Homo sapiens: one gene and its partner. The main gene of each other region encodes a partner of the protein of the gene in region 2 in a complex. Links are inferred from orthologs where the notes say so. Each region holds a gene or a part of one and is shown on either strand. Other genes may lie near its edges.

Region 1 (8,785 bases), on a different chromosome or scaffold from region 2:
TGAGCCGAGACTGCACCACTGCAAAGCTCACCGTGAGCTGGGGTGAGGAAGGGAGCCTTGGAGAATCATGAATGCAGTATCTATGTCTATATTCCCAGGCCAACTACAAAGCCTGAAACTCATTAAGTATTTAAGAAATAGCTGCTGAATTATTGCCCAGGGGTGCTCAGCTGAAGAAGGAGGGTTGGGACTAAAAGTCAAGGTTCCTGACTCCTAGCCCAATACTTTTCCAAACACATCACCTATTTTTCTGTATCTGATAGAAAGTATAGGGCTTAAGTTGTACATAAAGTTAACTCACTTTCCATACAGGCCAATCATGATTGACTATCAGTAGCTTTTGTGACAATCTTAGGAAACTAATGACTAGAAAGTTGAACGTTTCAGAGTTCCCATTCTCATGTCATGCTATTTCTATTTTGAAATAAAAATCCTTCCAAATGAAACTTTATCATCAAAATGACAGAAGTGAAAAATAGATACAAGAAGAAAGCAAAACGTTAATTTCAATATTGATTTGTCTGTTTAAAAAACTTTAAGATGATCATAACCACCAAGCCATTCTATTTTTAGGAAGACACATTCTTTTTAAGTGTTAGGAACCATGATAACTATTTATTCTTAAGTCCTAAATGACCAGTATGTGTATTAGTAGATAACTGGACACAGTGAAAGGTCAGAACGGTGACTGAGTGTGGCAGAAAGGGCAGTATCTCCAGCAACTACAGATGGATAAATAAATCACAATGAGTCCAGATAAAGGATTCTGATACAACCATTAAAATAATGCTTATGAGTACCTGATATCATGAGGAAGATTAAGATACAGTGTTTTAGGAGAAAAAAGAAAAGGTGGAAAAAAACAGATGGAAAGCATGACTTCAATCATACATACAGATGCTTCCACTTTCTACTTTCTTTTTGAGACAGAGTCTCGCTCTGTCGCCCAGGCTGGAGTGCAGTGGCATCGTGATCTTGGCTCAGTGCAGCCTCAACTTCCTGGGCTCAAGCAACCCTCCCATACCTCAGCCTCTTAAGTAGCTGGGTCTACAGGCATGTGCCACCACGCCCAGCTAACTTTTTTGTATTTTCAGAAGAGACGGGGTTTTGCCATGTTGCCCAGTCTGATCTCAAACTTCTGAGCTCAAGTGATCCACCCGCCTTGGCCTCCCAAACTGCTGGGATTACAGGCGTGAGCCACCGCCTCTACTTTATACTTTCTTGTTGAAGTAGACTGTATTACTGATTCCCCACCCATACTCTCTTTTTGGATATCTGGCCCCTCCTCGAGTCTTCAGAAAAGACAGCACTACAAATCCAGAGACAGCTACGGAACTCCCACCCCCACTGCTAAGCAGATCAGATTCTCTATCTTGCTAATTGGAGATGACAGAGAGGGTGTTCAATAGATTTTTTGAGGAGGAGCATCTGTATGGAAAGGTCTAGTAACACTGGGACCAGGGGTACTGGGAGGGCAAGCCAAAGCCTCAGAGGCTGGAGGAGCCTGGAGCACATGCCGTATGTTCATCTGCAGAGCAAAGCACAAGCATGGAGCAGAAGTCCAGAGTGAAGGCATGCAGGAGAGAAAAATCACCTCCCAGCCCAATCCTTCCATGGTGTGGTCCTATTTTGAGTTCTGTACTTGGATGTCTGTGAGGTTGCCTATTGTATTCTTAATACAAATCCCTCTTAAGCCAGCCTACAATAGGTAAGATAAATGTAATGGCTTCACTTGGCTGGAATGCAGTGGTGCAATCACGGCTCACTGCAGCCTCAACTTCCTGGGTTCAGATGATCCTCCCACCTTAGCCTCCTGAGTAGCTGGGACTACAGGCATGTGCCACCATGCCCAGCTAATTTTTTGTATTTTTAATACAAATAGTGTTTCCCCATGTTGCCCAGGCTGGTCTCCAACTCCTGGACTCAATATATCTGCCCGCCTTGGACTCCCAAAGTGCTGGTATTAGAGGCATGAGCCACCATGACCAGCCTTGACTTTGAAATATATGTTGTACATTCAGTCAGCAGTGGAATCTGAGGGAACACCAAATATGAGGAGAATGAGAGAAGAGATACCTCCAGTTAAAGGAGTTGAGAAGCTTGAAAATGTTTTAAAAAGTCACTGTAGGCTGGGCACAGTGGCTCATGCCCGTAATCGCAGCGCTTTGGGAGGCTGAAGTAGGTGAATTGCTTGAGCCCATAAGTTTGAGGCCAGCCTGGACAACATGGCAAAACTCCATCTCTACAAAAAATACAATAAATTAGCCGGTGTGGTGGCCCCTTTGGTCCCAGCTACTTGGGAGGCTGAGGTAGGAGGTCAAGGCTACAGTGAGCTGATCACACCACTGCACTCCAGCCTGGGCAATAGAGTGAGACCCTGGGTTGGAAAAAAAAAAAAAAAAAAAGTCACTGTTTTGGGGTTTTCTGGATGAAACCTGTTTCCATTAAAAAAAAAAAAAAAAAGCGGGGGGTGGGTGGAGATAGTATTTATTACTGATTCAAAATCATAACCAGATACAGTAAATAATTGTAACTATTGTTTCGAAAACCAACCTCAGAATTATTAAAAGTTAGTTTTATTGGATTTTTTTTTTAAGCTGTGCTGGTGGTATGAAAGACTTCGTTCCTAGCTGAAGCAGCAGCAAGCCTGTAATCAGCAACATAAGCACAGGGTAACTGGAGTCTGTATTTTATATAAATTTCAGGGAAGTTAAGGAAGATTAGTCTGAAAAAGTATGACTATGGGTGACTATGTATCCATCTAATGATTTCTGCCAGTTACCATCCAGACCTCTTATGGGAAGGCCTAACAACTTCTTCAACTTATTGGAAACAACTATCTGACAACTTTCCCCCAGATGTTAAGGTTCATTTATATGAAGGGCTCTTCCTCAATCCTGTGTAGATACTGTGGGAGGAGTACAGAGGCATGCACCCTTCCAAAACCAAGGCAAAAGCATGGGTACTTTGCAAAGAATTCAATATTTTAGCCCAAGAGAACATTAAGCAACAAGCTCTTTCCTTCTACAGTGGCAGTGTGGATTCTAGAATTAGAAATTGCTTTTTACAAGTTTTCACTTAAGTACTTCACCGCCTTTCTGCTGAGCTATTCTATGGAAGAGGGCTGTAGGTAGCCACGGTACCCAGGTGGAACAGCATGATCCTAAAGCCCTACTTCCACAAGGAATCGCAGTGGCCCATGGCCACGTGGTTCAACCAGCCAGCCCAGAAGATCTGCAGATGCAAGCAAAAGTATACCACATTGACCTGCACCCTGCATCTGGACCCATCTGACCCATGGTAAGCTGCCCCACAGTGAGGTACCACACCAAAGTACAAGCTGGCAGGGGCTTCAGCTTAGAAGAGTTAAGGGTGACCAGCATCCACAAGAGGGTGGCATTAGTACACCATGTCCCTGTGGGCCAATGTTCAGCACCTGAAGGAGTTAAGACTCCAAGCTCAACCTCTTCTCCAGGAAGCTCTTAGCCCCCAAGAAGGGAGACAGTTCTGAAAAACTCAAATCAGCCACCCAGCTGACAGGACCAATAATGCCCATATAGTACGTCTATAAGAAGGAGAAAGCTGGAATCATCACTAAGAACTTTAAGGTATTTGCCAGTCTTCACACAGCCCACATCAATTTTCAGCTCTTTGGCATATGGGCAAAAAGGGCCAAGGGAGCCACAGAACAGGATGCTGAAAAGGAAAAATGAAGCCCTGCTGGGGACTTGCAGTCAATCAGCAGTAGAGCTGGGTCTCCAGAAAAAGAAAAAAGCAGTTAACCAACAATCTCTCTGGGAGTTCAGAACTCAAGTCCAAGAAGTAGAAATGTGACTATCTGTTACAAGCTATTTTTTATATCATTGTTGTAAAGAACAACATGTTTACAAGTTCCCAGGGTGCCACAGGAAGAACACACAAAACCAACCAGAAACCTAACTTAGAGGGAACCGCAGATGAGTGAGGTGGGCAGAGTATTATAAAAGATGTTATGTGAACCCTTTCTTATAAAAAGAATTTCAAATATTAAACAATGCAAGTACATAAGAGTTACCAACACCTTGACCAGGCGCAGTGGCTCGTGTCTATAATCCCAGCGCTTTAAGAGGCCAAGACAGGAGGATCACTTGAGACCAGAAGTTCAAGACCAGCCTGGGCAAAACAGTGACACCCTGTCTCTATTTAAGGAAAAAAAAAAAAAACTTACCAACACCTATGGAAGACGCAATGTTCCACACTGTGTGCTTACCCATGGCAGACAAGGTAAGAGATAGACAAGTTGTGCAGGAAGCTGGGGTCAGGACCACTGCACTCTACAGGTGGCCAGCAAGAAAGGATATGGGGTAGGCAGGCTCATACACTGCAACTTTGTTAACATGAGAAATCAGGCATCACATTAACCTCCCCTCCTCTCTTCAGAACCCTACGTTCATAAACACTGTTATATGAAAAAGTTGCCTTTCCTTTTCCTTGCGTGGCCCATCTCTAGGTAAGGATTTCTTCCCTTACTCACCCTAGCCTCCTCCATGCCCTCACCTGTCTGACAATGCTCTGGATCAGTTTGTCCATGGTAAAGGCAATGTAGGCATGAATGGTGAACATCTCTCTCAGTGAATCTTCATACTGTGATGAGTCTATGTTGCCATCCAGCAGGCTCCGCACCATGTCCAGGAAAGCTGGGTAATAATCTTCTACATCAACATCCACTGTGGGAGAGATGGGATTGGTGAGGCCTTACCTTGCTAAGAAAAGACTAGGGATAGAGTACAGGGCAAATCCCACAGCTGGCCTAAATGGCATTTGAAAGTATGAACACTAGGTATTCAAAATATACTCACTCATTCCAATGTAAACAGAGATGAATTCCGACAGGTGACTACAATCACCAGCACTATCAGAGTGACTCTGCAACTTTAACAGTGGCTTCTAATATTCTGACTACCATGCTAGAAAGATACTTCTTTATGGTACTGCTGGGCCACTTTCAGAGAGGAAAATATCCTAGGGAAGCCAGTCCTTCAAAGAGCTGTTGGCTCCCCTGCTGAGAGAGGAACCTACTCTCCCAGCCTGCACAAGAGCATTCCTCACATGGGTCACTTGCTCATAAAGCTATTTCAATGAAGCATAAAGTACAGATGAGGAAAGGCAGACACAGCCATACTCCAGCACTGGGAAACCTCTTGGGAACACAAAAATAGGAGTGCAAATTAAATCCTTTATGAATAATGAAGTAATCTGCATTTGTCAAAGTCCTTTTGTTTAAAAATGGATTCGCTACGTTGTATTTCACAAATTGCATTAAATCATCTGTAGTTGCTGCACATGAATCATTTCAATCACTAGCTAGAATAAATCTCATCAGTTGTTAAAGACATTTGGCAACTAGCAGAGGGCACAAGGAGTATTAAAGAGTGCTGCCTTTAGCTTACTAAAGACCCATTTATATAAAGTTCAAAAATAGACAAATCTAATCTCTAGTGTTAGAAATCAACAAAGTGGAAAAAGGACTGGTTATCAGAGTACTGGTTATGTTTCGTTTCTTGAACATAGGTACGTCTAGTCTGTAAAAATTCACTGAGCTGCACAATTCTGATTTGTATACTTTTCTATATATACATGCCGTACCTTATATGTATTTTTTTGTAGAGATGGGGTCTCACTTATTAACCAGGCTGGTCTCAAACTCCTGGCCTCAAGTGATCCTCCCACATCGGCCTCCCAAAGTGCTGGGATTACAGGTGTAAGCCACTGCACCCGGCCTATACATTGCACTTCAACAAAAAGTTGACTAAAATGAAAAAAGTTACAAAACGAACTATTTGTCACTGACTAATTGGTTACTTGCTAGTTGTGTTTGTGCTGGAGAAAAAAGGCTAGGAGCAAAACCAAGTTGTCTCCATTTATCTGAAGTCTGACGAATTCATTAAAAAACAGGCAAAACAGGACAAATACTGTTTAAAAGAGGCAACTGGCTTGAGTTTCATCACAGACTATCACATTCTTTAGCTCCATAGAATAGGTATAGGCTATAGACTCCAAAATATACCACTGCTATGAAAACTGCTTTTATGCCAGAATAAAGTTTTGAGTCCAAACCACAGATTTGTCCAAACAAGCTGTGGTAAGTGTGAGGGTTGGCATTATCAGACAAGACAACATTATGTAAGCCTCAAACCAGGTTAAGTCAGTGGCCAAGCCAGGAATAGGCCATTTAATTTCTAATTTCTACCCAAGTAGATGGAATCACCACAATGAGATCTAAAATTTATCTCTTTCGAGCTAGGACTAGTCTAGATAAAAGCTTTCAGAATTATTTTTCAGTGTCATTAGCTCCTCAACAGATAGAAAGCTAGGGCCATATCTGGGCTTCCTACATCAGCAACACATAAAAAAAAAAAAAAAGAAGAAGAAGATACACTCCTCAGGTTGGCTATTTCCTTAAGAGCCCAGAAGAAATGCTTCATGAAAAAGCTTTTGGCTCACAGCTCAAGTACCTAATTTATGACGTGAACTGGAAGCAGGCAGCACAAAATTACATAAAGCACATGACAGCGTCCTGAACCCTCACTTACTTTCCTTTTCCTGAGTTCTACATCTTTATCCCTGTCCTGCCTGTTCTCCATGTCTCATATCACCTTTTGAGTTCCAGTCTCCTTTCCATAAACTATTTCTACATATTAAGAATGAGCCATAAACCCCACTGGTTAAACAGAAGTCCTGCTCAAAAATATGAGAAAATTCTGTTTTAAGCACTAGGAATTTATGTTCTGTCATGGATTGAAATTGGCTGTGACAGTTTAGTCTCTATCTGTACTTTGAAACAGATGGCAGTAACCCAGAAATCTGCCATTTGAGAAATTAACTGTGATACCCCCTTCCCAGGTGCGTCCACAGTACCAACCACTGACCAAGTGTCCATGATCTAAGCCCTGCATAGGATACTTTGCACAAAGCAACACCACAAGCAACTAGAGCCTCCATTTTTCAGATAAACAGGTTCAGAGAGTTTAACTACACAGACTCTAATGCCTGTGCTCTATTAATAAAAGAAGCAGTCCCAAGTCTAGGTGGCTCTAAGGTCCTCAACCTCACACATCCTCTGTAAATCAGAGGTCTCGGCACTCACTAGGTTCTTTGAGACGTAGCTGAATGGCAGGGCTGTCACTCTTGTCTCGCTTTATGCCCAGCACTTCCCGTTCCCATTCTCTCTCTCGGTTTTCTTCTTCAATTTGCCGTTCGGCTTGGGAACAAATCCGTAGCAGCCTCAGGCAGAGAATCTGGTGCAGTCGCATAAAAATATACCAGTTGTTGTTGACATAGAAGAGGTTGTATACTTCATCCATTCCTCTTAATTTTTGAGCTGCTGTGTTACTAAACAGTAACTTGGACTTAGGGGGACTGCCCCCAACACCATTGTGCTTCTTAACTGCCCCTGTGGCTTCATCTACATCCATCTCTTCTTCTTCCTCTTCCTCCACATCTGAGAGATCACCTCTTTGGGCAAAGAGCAAATCTGGAATAAAATGATGCATGATTTGTTTTATCTTATATTTGTCCTCCTTCTGAATGCCTGTCTGCCTCTTCACATGGTGGATAATCAGAGCAGCAGCATCTTCCAGTATTTGTTTGTCTTCATACGCAAGTGAGAGGTGTGGGCCAACAGGTACACCAGCATTCTCCTCCGTAGCCTGCTCTTGCCTCTGATGGGACAGAGACACAAAAGTATTCTGTGAGATGTCTACAGCGACAACATGTCTACAAGACCACATCAGCCATACATCCCATTATCAACCACAGTGTCTATATTTTTCTAATCAAAAACTTAGGACCTGGGACTGGGAGCGGTGGCTCACGTCTATAATCCCAGCACTTTGGTAGGCCGAGGAGGGTGATCACTTGAGGTCAGGAGTTTGAGATCAGCCTGGCCAATATGGTGAAACCCCGCCTCTACTAAAAATAACAAAATTAGCTGAACATGGTGGTAGGTGCCTGTAATCCCAGCCCTTGGGATGCTAAGGCAAGAGAATCACTTGAACCCGTGAGGCAAAGGTTGCAGTGAGCCGAGATCGTACTACTGCACTCCAGCCTGGGCAACAGAGTGAGACTCTGTCTCAAAACAAAACTTAGGACCTGACTATAACAATAATTTTTGTCCCTCTTCCAGAAACAAATAGGTAATGACAGAGACGTGGTTTGATGTCAAAATACAGGTACCTTCTACACACTGATGACTTACAGGGAGAGTAGGACAGAATTGGAACCATCTTTCTTTCTTTTTTTTGGCAGGGTCTTGCTCTGTCACCCAGGCTGGAGTGCAGTGGAGCAATCTTGGCTCATTGTAACCTCCGTCTCCCGGGTTCAAGCCATTCTTATGCTTCAGCCTCCTGAGTAGCTGGGATTAAGAAGTGCACCACCATGCCAGGCTAATTTTGTATTTTTAGTAGAGATGAGGTTTCACCATGTCGGCCAGGCTGGTTTCGAACTTCTGGCCTCAAGTTATCTGTCCACCTCAGCCTCCCAAAGTGATGGGATTACAGGCGTGAGCCACTGTGCCCAGTGGGACTATCTTTCAAAATTCTGGATTAGTATCTATATAAAGGATATGATATGAGATCTGTGATTTACTTTACTTCTGGGGTGGGGGTATGGAGGGTGACAAAGTAACATCAGCAAAATATGGAGGATTAAGTTTATTTATTTTATTGATTTTGAGACGGAATCTTGCTCTGTCACCCAGACTGGAGTGCAGTGGCATGTTCTCAGCTCACTGCATCCTCCACCTCCC
Region 2 (8,785 bases):
ATCCTGGCGAACATGGTGAAACCCCGTCTGTACTAAAAATACAAAAATTAGCTGGGCGTGGTGGCGGGTGCCTGTAGTCCCAGCTACTTGGGAGGCTGAGGGAGAGAACAGCTTGAACTCGGGAGGCGGAGGTTGCAGTGAGCTGAGATGGCGCCACTGCACTCCAGCCTGGGTGACAGTGCGAGACTCTGTCTCAAAAAATATAAATAAATAAATAAAATACAAAAAATTAGCCAGGCATATTGGCGTGTGCCTGTAGTCCCAGCTACTCAGGAGGCTGAGGTAGGAGAATCGCTTGAACCTGGGAGGCGGAGTCTGCAGTGAGCCAAGATTGCGCCACTGCACTCCAGCCTGGGCGACAGAGCGAGACTCTGTCTCAAAAAAAAAAAAAAAACCAAAAATAACACATATACATGTTACATGTGTATCCATGTATCATATCCTCACAAAGGTCTTTTAAAGAAAACAGCTGACTCTGGAAGGCTATTCCAACAATTCTCATGAGATGCATTGTATTTTCCTTCAGTGGTACTTAGAACCCAAACCCAAGAAATTCAACTGACTTAAAAGCGAACACCCAGAGTAAACAATGCAAGCTGGTCTATTACCTCTGGGAAGTGGTCTGGAACTTGGGAATGTGGCCACCTCCCAGATCCGCCTCCTTTGGAATCACTGAATGGTGGTGGCCTGAATGTCCACCATTGGTCCCTATTTGCTCCAAAGTAGAGGTGGCCAACATGCTTCCCAAAGCAGCCAACTTCCAAACCAACTGATCACCAGGTCCCTCCTGAACCGCAGTCTCTGAGACCTTCAAGGGATCCTCATGCACTACACGATGTCTTGGGGGAACCATTATCCCTAGATACCAAATCTATTAAATTATTTGAATTCTCTGAAAAGATAAGTCCTTAGATATTAAAGTGTTCAGGGCTCATACCTGTAATCCCAGCACTTTGGGAGGCTGAGGCAGGAGGATCACTTCAGCTCAGGAGTTTGAGGACAGCCTGGGCAACATAGCAAGACCTCATCTCTACTAAAAATCAAAAAAACATTAGCCAGGCATGGTAATGGAGGACTGTAGTCCCAGCTACTCGGGAGGCCAAAGTGGGAAGATCGCTTGAGCCAGGGGGATCAAGGCTCCAGTGAGCTATGATCACACCACTGCATGCCAGCCTGGGGGACAGTGAGACCCTGTCTCAAAAAAATAAAAAATGAAGTGTTCATATGGGGGGGCGGGGGCGGTTAAAGATGAAACCAAGAAGTATGTGACAACCTTAACATAAGAATTTACTTTTTAATTTCTAAAGAAAAATCAAAGGGGGGGGAAGAAATTTAAAAATATGTTTAGATATAAAATGTGCTACGAAGCAACATCAACAGGGTAGTAAAAATGTGCGTTTTTTTTTTAGGCCAATTAACCTGTTTTACAAGCTGCAACTCAGCTGCTGAAAAAAGATATTTAAATAGCCTCAAAGACTAAGCCCCAAATGTCAAACTGACTCTATTACTTTGTAACTAATGGAAATTCTGACCTGGGAATCTCTACAATTAAGTTCTTAAAGCTTTGAACCTCTACTATTAAACCGAACAAAACTAGAAATTACCACTACTGTACTATTTTCGAAAAGCAATTTCTTAAGAAGGTGGACACAAAAGTGGGGCGAGGAGGTAGGAAAATTAATTTAATTTTGTATCCTACTGAGAATCCTGGTATTAACACTTTATTTCCCCAATAAGTGAGTCCACGTTATAGCTACAGAACCTCAAGGAGTCCCAATTCTACTGGTAAATATTCACTGTTTTAAGTCTTTTGTGTCGACCGAAGGCTGAAGGGGAAAATGCTCTTGAGCAAGTGGGTGGCTTCGTTTCTGACTCACAGGCAGCCCCAGATTTAAAACAAGGAGAGAAAAACAGAAGTCCACCCGTACCATCAATTAGTTATTTTCAAATATCAGCTACTTTTTCACAGTATTTTTTGAGAGATCATTAGTCCAAATCAAAATGTGAGGCAAATTTACATAGCATGATATAGAATGCCTTAAAAGCAGTATAAGACCAAGGCAAAGGGAAGATCCTTATCTTTCAAAATGAAAGGGAGCTTGGCAAGTATTCACACCAAGATGCGATGCCTGAATCCCATTTGTTTTGCTGAAGTCATTTAAAACTCAGGAAGACATCTTCTGCCAAAAATACGGCTGCACCAAAATACTCCATACCCTCTGGAAAGAGCATAAAGCAATGTAGCTGACCTCTCAGCCACAGGCCACGTCTGCCAAAGAAAGAAAAACAAAACCTCCAAACTGATACAAAAGCCAAACATGAGCCTGGTGAGATGGGAGAGGCTGGCACTGCACCAGTGAACACCTCAGCCAGTATTCCCAGGAACACTTTTCAATTGTCATTGGGGAAGAGGGAGACCCACCTTCAACAACTGCATTATGATCTCTGACTGCCAAGGCCAAAAATGAAAAGTATACAGAATAGAGAAAAAAAACAACATTCTCAAAGTATATTTAACAAGAGAATAAGCAATTTCAATTTCACTGAAAAAGTAAAATGCATCCAGTGACATTATTTTCTAAATTTCTGCTGTTAATGTAAGAAAGATGGTGAAAATTCCTTCAAAATGCTTAGGAGTTCTAACACATCAAATCTGATCATTTTGTTTACATTAGGAAACACCAGACATTGTGGATCTCTTCTTTAAAAAAACAAGAATTTTATTTTACTGCATTTTCACCCTCAAGACATGTCTCGTAAAGTCTGAGGATTAAGCTTAGAAAGAGGAAGATTCAAAGCAACACAATTACAAAATGAACATCACTGGAAATATCACATGGCTTTAAGACTCATAGATTTGTAAAAATGTTAGTGATAAATCTCATCATTTTCAAAGATGGTTCTTATGTGTGGGCTTGATCTTTAAAGGTTATTTGGTTTTCATTATTAGAAACATTTTTCATCTCATTTTGCCCTTCTCAGTGTTAAGCTGTTAGAGCCTGCCACCTAGTGGCGATGTGTTCTGAGACATAATGTTAAGATATAACACAAACCGACCTTTCTGAAGAATGCCAAAGAACACCAACTCAGAGGGGAAGAAGTCATCAAGATCAGCCTTAGAGATAAAGCCAGCCTCCAGCATCTACTGGGCAATTAACTCACTGCAACTTAATAGGTGGAAATGATTTACTTCGGCCATGACTAGAACCCTAAGCATTTTTGACAAGTACAATGTTATCGGGTAACCAACCTAACACAATGCTGGGTTTTTTTAAGAATTCAAAATAAATAATCATTACCCCAATTTTGGAACTTTTGGTTAGATACTGAAACTCAAAGGGTCATTATATAGCCATTATAAATGATAATGAGACACCTTACAGTAACCCAGAAAAACATTCTCAATATAACCAAACAGAAAGGCAAAGCAAACCGTATGTCCACTATGCCTTAGAATGAATAGACTATGCCTGCATATGGATAAAGAATAAAAAGAAATATATCAGAATGAAAAGACCTGAGAAATGATGGCAGTATCCATTTCATATCTAGCAGAAAGCGTAATACAGAACAGAAGAAATGTTTGTTGAATGAACAAAAGTATGAGCTTTTAAGGTTCTTTCATACTGTTTTGCCATTACCTTTCCAATGAAAAATGCTAGGCGGTCTGAACGTTTCAAAGAGTCTTCAATGTAAACCAGGAATGCAGGACACAGTGGCTCATGCCTGTAATCCCAGCACTTTGGGAGGCCAAGGCAGTAATATCATGTGAGGTCAGGAGTTCGAGACCAACCTGGCCAACATGGCGAAACCTCGTGTCTACTAAAAATACAAAAACTAGCTGGGCATGGTGGCGGGTGCCTGCAATCCCAGCTACTCGGGAGGCTGAGGCAGGAGAATCGCTTGAACCTGGAAGGCGGAGGTTGCAGTGAGCCGAGATTACGCCACTGCACTCCAGCCTGGCGACAGAGCAAGACTCCGTCTCAAAAAACAAAAAACAAACTAGGAATGTTTTAGGATACAGTTCCCCCAAGCAAGTGTCCTTGACCACTTTTGCAGCTGGATCATGTAAGAAAAAAGGGTATGTGTCATCAAAAAACATCTAATAACATCTTAGAAATTCACAGTGTACATTAGCATATCGCAGGACCCAAAGGGTACTACAAGGGAGCAACCCACTTATCTTAATTAACATGATCATCCCCCAAACTGATTTGACCACAAAATCCTTTAATCCGAAGAGCACCTATTAACCTTAGCACACAGGAGCAGAGGTAAGAGGGGTCAGAGGGGGGACATACACCCCAGCCCCAGTTGGCAGGGGTACCACACAAGATACCAGCCTGCAAATTCTAGTACAGAGACACCAGAATGGAGAAGGAAGGGGAGCAGAACATGGTTTTGGGAAACGCTGCTTTCAAAGATCCACCGGAAGTATTGATTAAATGACTGCTAATACATTTTTTAATGGGTTTCTACTTTTAGTACTATGTAAGTTTAGCAGCAGCCGTGATCTGAAATAACTACAATAGCCCCAGCCCTCTTTCCAAGTGGTTCATATGAGACTCTTACTAGTCCAGGTTTTCCCATAACATACCATCTTTTGTCATAGTACAGTTTGCCATCTTCTATCCGAGCTTCGAACCTCTGGGCTGGAGATTCCGCGGGTGTTGCAGGCAAGTGCTCAGGAGAGGATGGAGATGCTGGAGGAAACCAATACTTACGTGACTAAGAATGTAACAAACACATGCGAGTCTACCAGTTAACATGCTTTAATTGAAACACTATCAGAATGTGGTAATAATCATCACTGAGCCCTTACAGTGATAATGCATGGGATTTCAGCAAAACTCTTGTATATTCCATCTAAACTTGATCATCAAAGCAACCCTGGGAAGTAGGCAAGGCAGATTAGCCTCTCAAATGGAAGAGACACCTGGGTTTCAGGAAGATTAAGGTCAAATGTGCAAATACATAAGGTCACTTAGAGTAGGACTAAAGCCCTGGTGATCAAAGGGCAAGTATTATGAAAATCTCTTAAAAATGCAATCGTTTTCAGCAGGGTGCGGTGGCGCACACCTGTGATTCCAGCATTTTGGGAGGCTGAGGCAGGTGAATCACGAGGTCAACAGATGAGACCATCCTGGCCAACATGGTGAAACCCCATCTCTAGTAAAAATACAAAAGTTAGCTGGGTGTGGTGGCACATGCCTGTTGTCCTAGCTACTTGGGAAGCTGAGACAGGAGAATCACTTGAACCTGGGAGTCGGAGGTTGCACTGAGCCGAGTTCACGCCACTGCACTCCAGCCTGGCGACAGAGCAAGACTCCATAATCCAAAAAAAAAAAAAAGGAATCACTTAAAGAACTACTAACTTTACACTCACACAACTCCCTCACCCCTCCCCATCGTGCCTCAGAAGGTCAGGATGTCTGTGGACCGCAGTGGCCCCCAGGAAGATATTACCTAGAAAAAGAAGACTCTTGTTTTCTTCCACAAGACTCAGTAAGTAGAGGGATGTGTGAGTAATCGAGTAATCGAGTAATCATGGTGCTTTAAACAAAAAAAAGATGTCACCAATTCAGAATTCTAGTTGGCAGCTAGCACTGATGATCTCAAGTGCTGTTCCGGAAGGAACAACTATGAATACTGAGCTGGTTGGTCTCTTCTATGAACTGCGAGTCAGAGCAGCCTTGGAATGCCTTACCAGAGTCAGGCCACGAAAAGCCACGGGAGCAGAACTGCCTAGGACTTGGCTTTAGAAAGCCAGTAATACTTAAAAATCCTTCTGGTTTCATTTTCAAAAATGGATGTGTACTTAAATCTTATGCCTGATGCCTACACAGAAGGAAATCAATCAATCAATCAAATGTCTCTTTTATGATAAATCCTAAGAAAAAAATAAAAACAACAAAGCAGGGGTTATGAAAAAAAAAGAAATCAGGGAGGGGTATAGTTAAGGTCCCCTTCAGTTTTCATGATGACTACTCTTAGGCAAATGATGAACATTTCATTTTTGAAAATTGCAACCATTTCCTGACAGGTATTCACACCCTTTTCCAACAACATGATAAAAAGGTTGCACAAATGCCAACACATCATGCACTCACCTGGTCTCTTGGGTGACTTAAGCTGTAGGAAGAACAACAACAAAAAATCTTAGAGAAAATCATTTCAGGTGCAACTTCAGGTGTCAAAGGTATCATAATGATTAACAAGTAACATGTTAACAAACAAAATCAGAAAACCACAAAAGCCTGAGTTTTCAAATAAATCAAAAAAGTCAAACCGTACCTTATTTAATGTTCTCAGATCCTCCATGATCTGTTCATCTGTTAACAAATAGTTTAGCTGGGGTGTTGAGAGTTAAAGGACTGTATGTGAAAAGTACAGTTTCCAGGCAAAGAGTAATCAACACAATGGTACCAGTATTTTAGAATTTACAAAGTATGATTTTGTTAAATGATGTTTCTACAGTAACAGTTTGCTTCTTAGAAATTTATGATTCTCCTACTAAATGTCATGGTACTTCAATACATAAAAGAATTCACATCCCCCACTGCTAGGATGAGAAGGTGGAATGAGCTTCATTAGGCATCTACAATAACACAGCAAAGGAAACAGTAAAATAAGAATTTCATCATGAATGTATAAAGCGCTTTTGTTCCAAAGATCTAAAGACTTCCACACACACTCACCCAAGGTAAGGCCAATCTTCCCTCAGCAACTTAACTCCTGTTGTGAAGGAGAAGCAACCTGAAGTTATGCCCTTTCCTGATGGTACACAAATGACTAAGCCATTTTGGGCAGAGAGCTATTCACCATCTCCTCGAAAGGAACAGAAACAACGCTTCTCCATCTTTCCTGTTTCCGTTACCATTTTTATGATTAAAGGGCTGCTTTATGTCTGACTGAAATCTCATTTGCTTTAATTTAAAAACAGGTTGCAATCCACTACATTATGGACATAGATAACAGAGGTACATAAAGGTAGATATTACTGCCTTCATTTTACAGTTGGAAGGTGGAAAATTACAGGTGAAAAAATTAAGGCACATCAAGTTTTCAGATGCCCCTGAATCTTGATGTTAGCATTAAAACCAGGCTGAACTTTGCATGCAAAGCACCTTTCCAAATCACAACTCTATACATCTCTCCCACCAAAAGCAGTAGCAAATGAGGACTACCATGATAAAATGAGCAACCCCTGACCTGTGGACAAACATTTAACACACGCTTTCCAGTTAAATGTTACTATTTTCTGTAGGACAACGGCCATGTGTACCCTAGCAAACGGATAAACATAGGATTCCACAGTCTTAAAAAAGAAAGGCGGTTAAGGCTTGATGTAAATGGATATCTGGAGCAGGTTTCCTCCTCTTGTCTGGGATGGGGACGGGATCATTTGGTCGCCTCCGCAACTTTCTGGTCATGATAGGTTTCACCTCCATAGAATCTGTGGCAAGAATGGAATGGGTAAATCTATCCAACTCCCACTTGAAGTCAGTAAGAATTTCTATAGTATAAGAATATCTGCCCCCCAGCCACCCAATCAGAACTGTTTTACTGGGGGTGTTTGTTCTACACATGGTCGTAGCCAGACACCCCATTAGATTTTAGAAAGCGTTTATACTTGTAAGATTCAGACCAGCTGCCCTAAGTGCACACCCCTCTCAGAAATGCAGCCCTACCGTCAAGCATTACAGCCACTGTGGGCATCTCTCCAGCACCCTCAAAACCTAGGGGATATTCCTCCTCTCCCTCAAATTAAGAAGCCCAGAGTCACAGGCTCTCGGGATAGGAAGGAACCTGAAGGTCATCTCAGCTGACTAATTTCTGCAGCTCCCAAAGAGGGTGGGTGTGCTGAAGCCCATTGGTATGAAAGGCTCTTTTAGAGGCCACTGGCCTCAGTGCCAACATTTTTATACGAAGTTTTCATTTACAGACTCGGATTTTTTTTCTCTATAACCTTTTGTAGCTACTTGACTATCAAGATGACACAATGAGGGCTCACAATAAAAGCCTCTTTCCCTTCTTCTTCACTCCTCTCTGTGGTCTCACACTGCTGCTGACTCCCCACGCCTTCAAATAGCTCCTCCCAAGAGGTGGCGCACAAGGAGGTGAACCTGCCTCCTCGGGGTTCGCTTGTCTGCTCCCTGAATACTGATCATCTTTGGGGTCCAGTCAGTTCCTTTCAGACTGTATCCCAACCAATCTGCAATCACCACTTCCAGCTCCACACATCCCTCTGAATGGCAATAGATACCTGACACCACACATTCTCCATGCCCCACAAAAACTCAGTTCTCCTCGTTTCCTCTCCCAAGGTTGCTTCTTTTCCTGTATCTCAGGGACATCCAATCTATCCCTCCTTCCATGCGAGAACAAATCTGCATCTGTGACTTGTCTTCCTTCATCCAGGCATGAGGTTCACCAACTAATGTTGGTCCTGCCTCCACTCCATCCCTTCATCCTTTCACTGGCTACCTCCACGGCCTTCAGTGGTCTTTCCCATGTCCCATCCATCCTCCCCTCCCTCAAAGTGATCTTCCTGAGACACAAATCAGATCGTTTTGTGTATCACTCTTGTTACTAAATATTTCTTATTTTTTCAAGACAGGGCCTCACTCTCTCACCCAGGCTGGAGTGCAGTGGCACGATCTTCATTCACTGCAACCTCTGCCTCCCCGGTTCAAACGAGTCTCATGCCTCAGCCTCCCAAGTAGCTGGGACTACAGCATGCGCCACCACACCCGGCTAATTTTTTGTATTTTTAGTAGAATCA

The links.
Region 1: the proteins of SUDS3 (region 2) and SIN3A are in contact, whole or in part, in an NMR structure (PDB 2N2H), measured with the Mus musculus proteins. The link is inferred for Homo sapiens from one-to-one orthologs. Residues at the interface, in NP_848737.3 of Mus musculus: Ala205, Leu207, Asn208, Tyr209, Leu210, Leu211, Gln215, Ile216, Glu218, Asp219, Leu220, Thr222, Leu223, Leu226; in NP_001103821.1 of Mus musculus: Glu616, Glu619, Leu620, Val623, Arg672, Ile673, Tyr674, Ala675, Lys677, Asp680, Ile681, Ile691, Ala692, Ile695, Val696, Arg699, Met702, Lys703, Glu706, Trp707, Glu709, Ala710, Phe714.

What each region holds. Positions count from the first base shown.
Region 1 is NC_000015.10:75,385,116-75,393,900, forward strand, and holds part of SIN3A (paired amphipathic helix protein Sin3a), read right to left. Parts: intron 7,701-8,785; coding exon 7,127-7,700; intron 4,707-7,126; coding exon 4,537-4,706; intron 1-4,536. UniProt on the Homo sapiens protein: Acts as a transcriptional repressor. Corepressor for REST. Interacts with MXI1 to repress MYC responsive genes and antagonize MYC oncogenic activities. Also interacts with MXD1-MAX heterodimers to repress transcription by tethering SIN3A to DNA.
Region 2 is NC_000012.12:118,399,330-118,408,114, reverse strand, and holds part of SUDS3 (sin3 histone deacetylase corepressor complex component SDS3), read right to left. Parts: intron 7,457-8,785; coding exon 7,361-7,456; intron 6,357-7,360; coding exon 6,295-6,356; intron 6,133-6,294; coding exon 6,111-6,132; intron 4,704-6,110; coding exon 4,598-4,703; intron 1-4,597.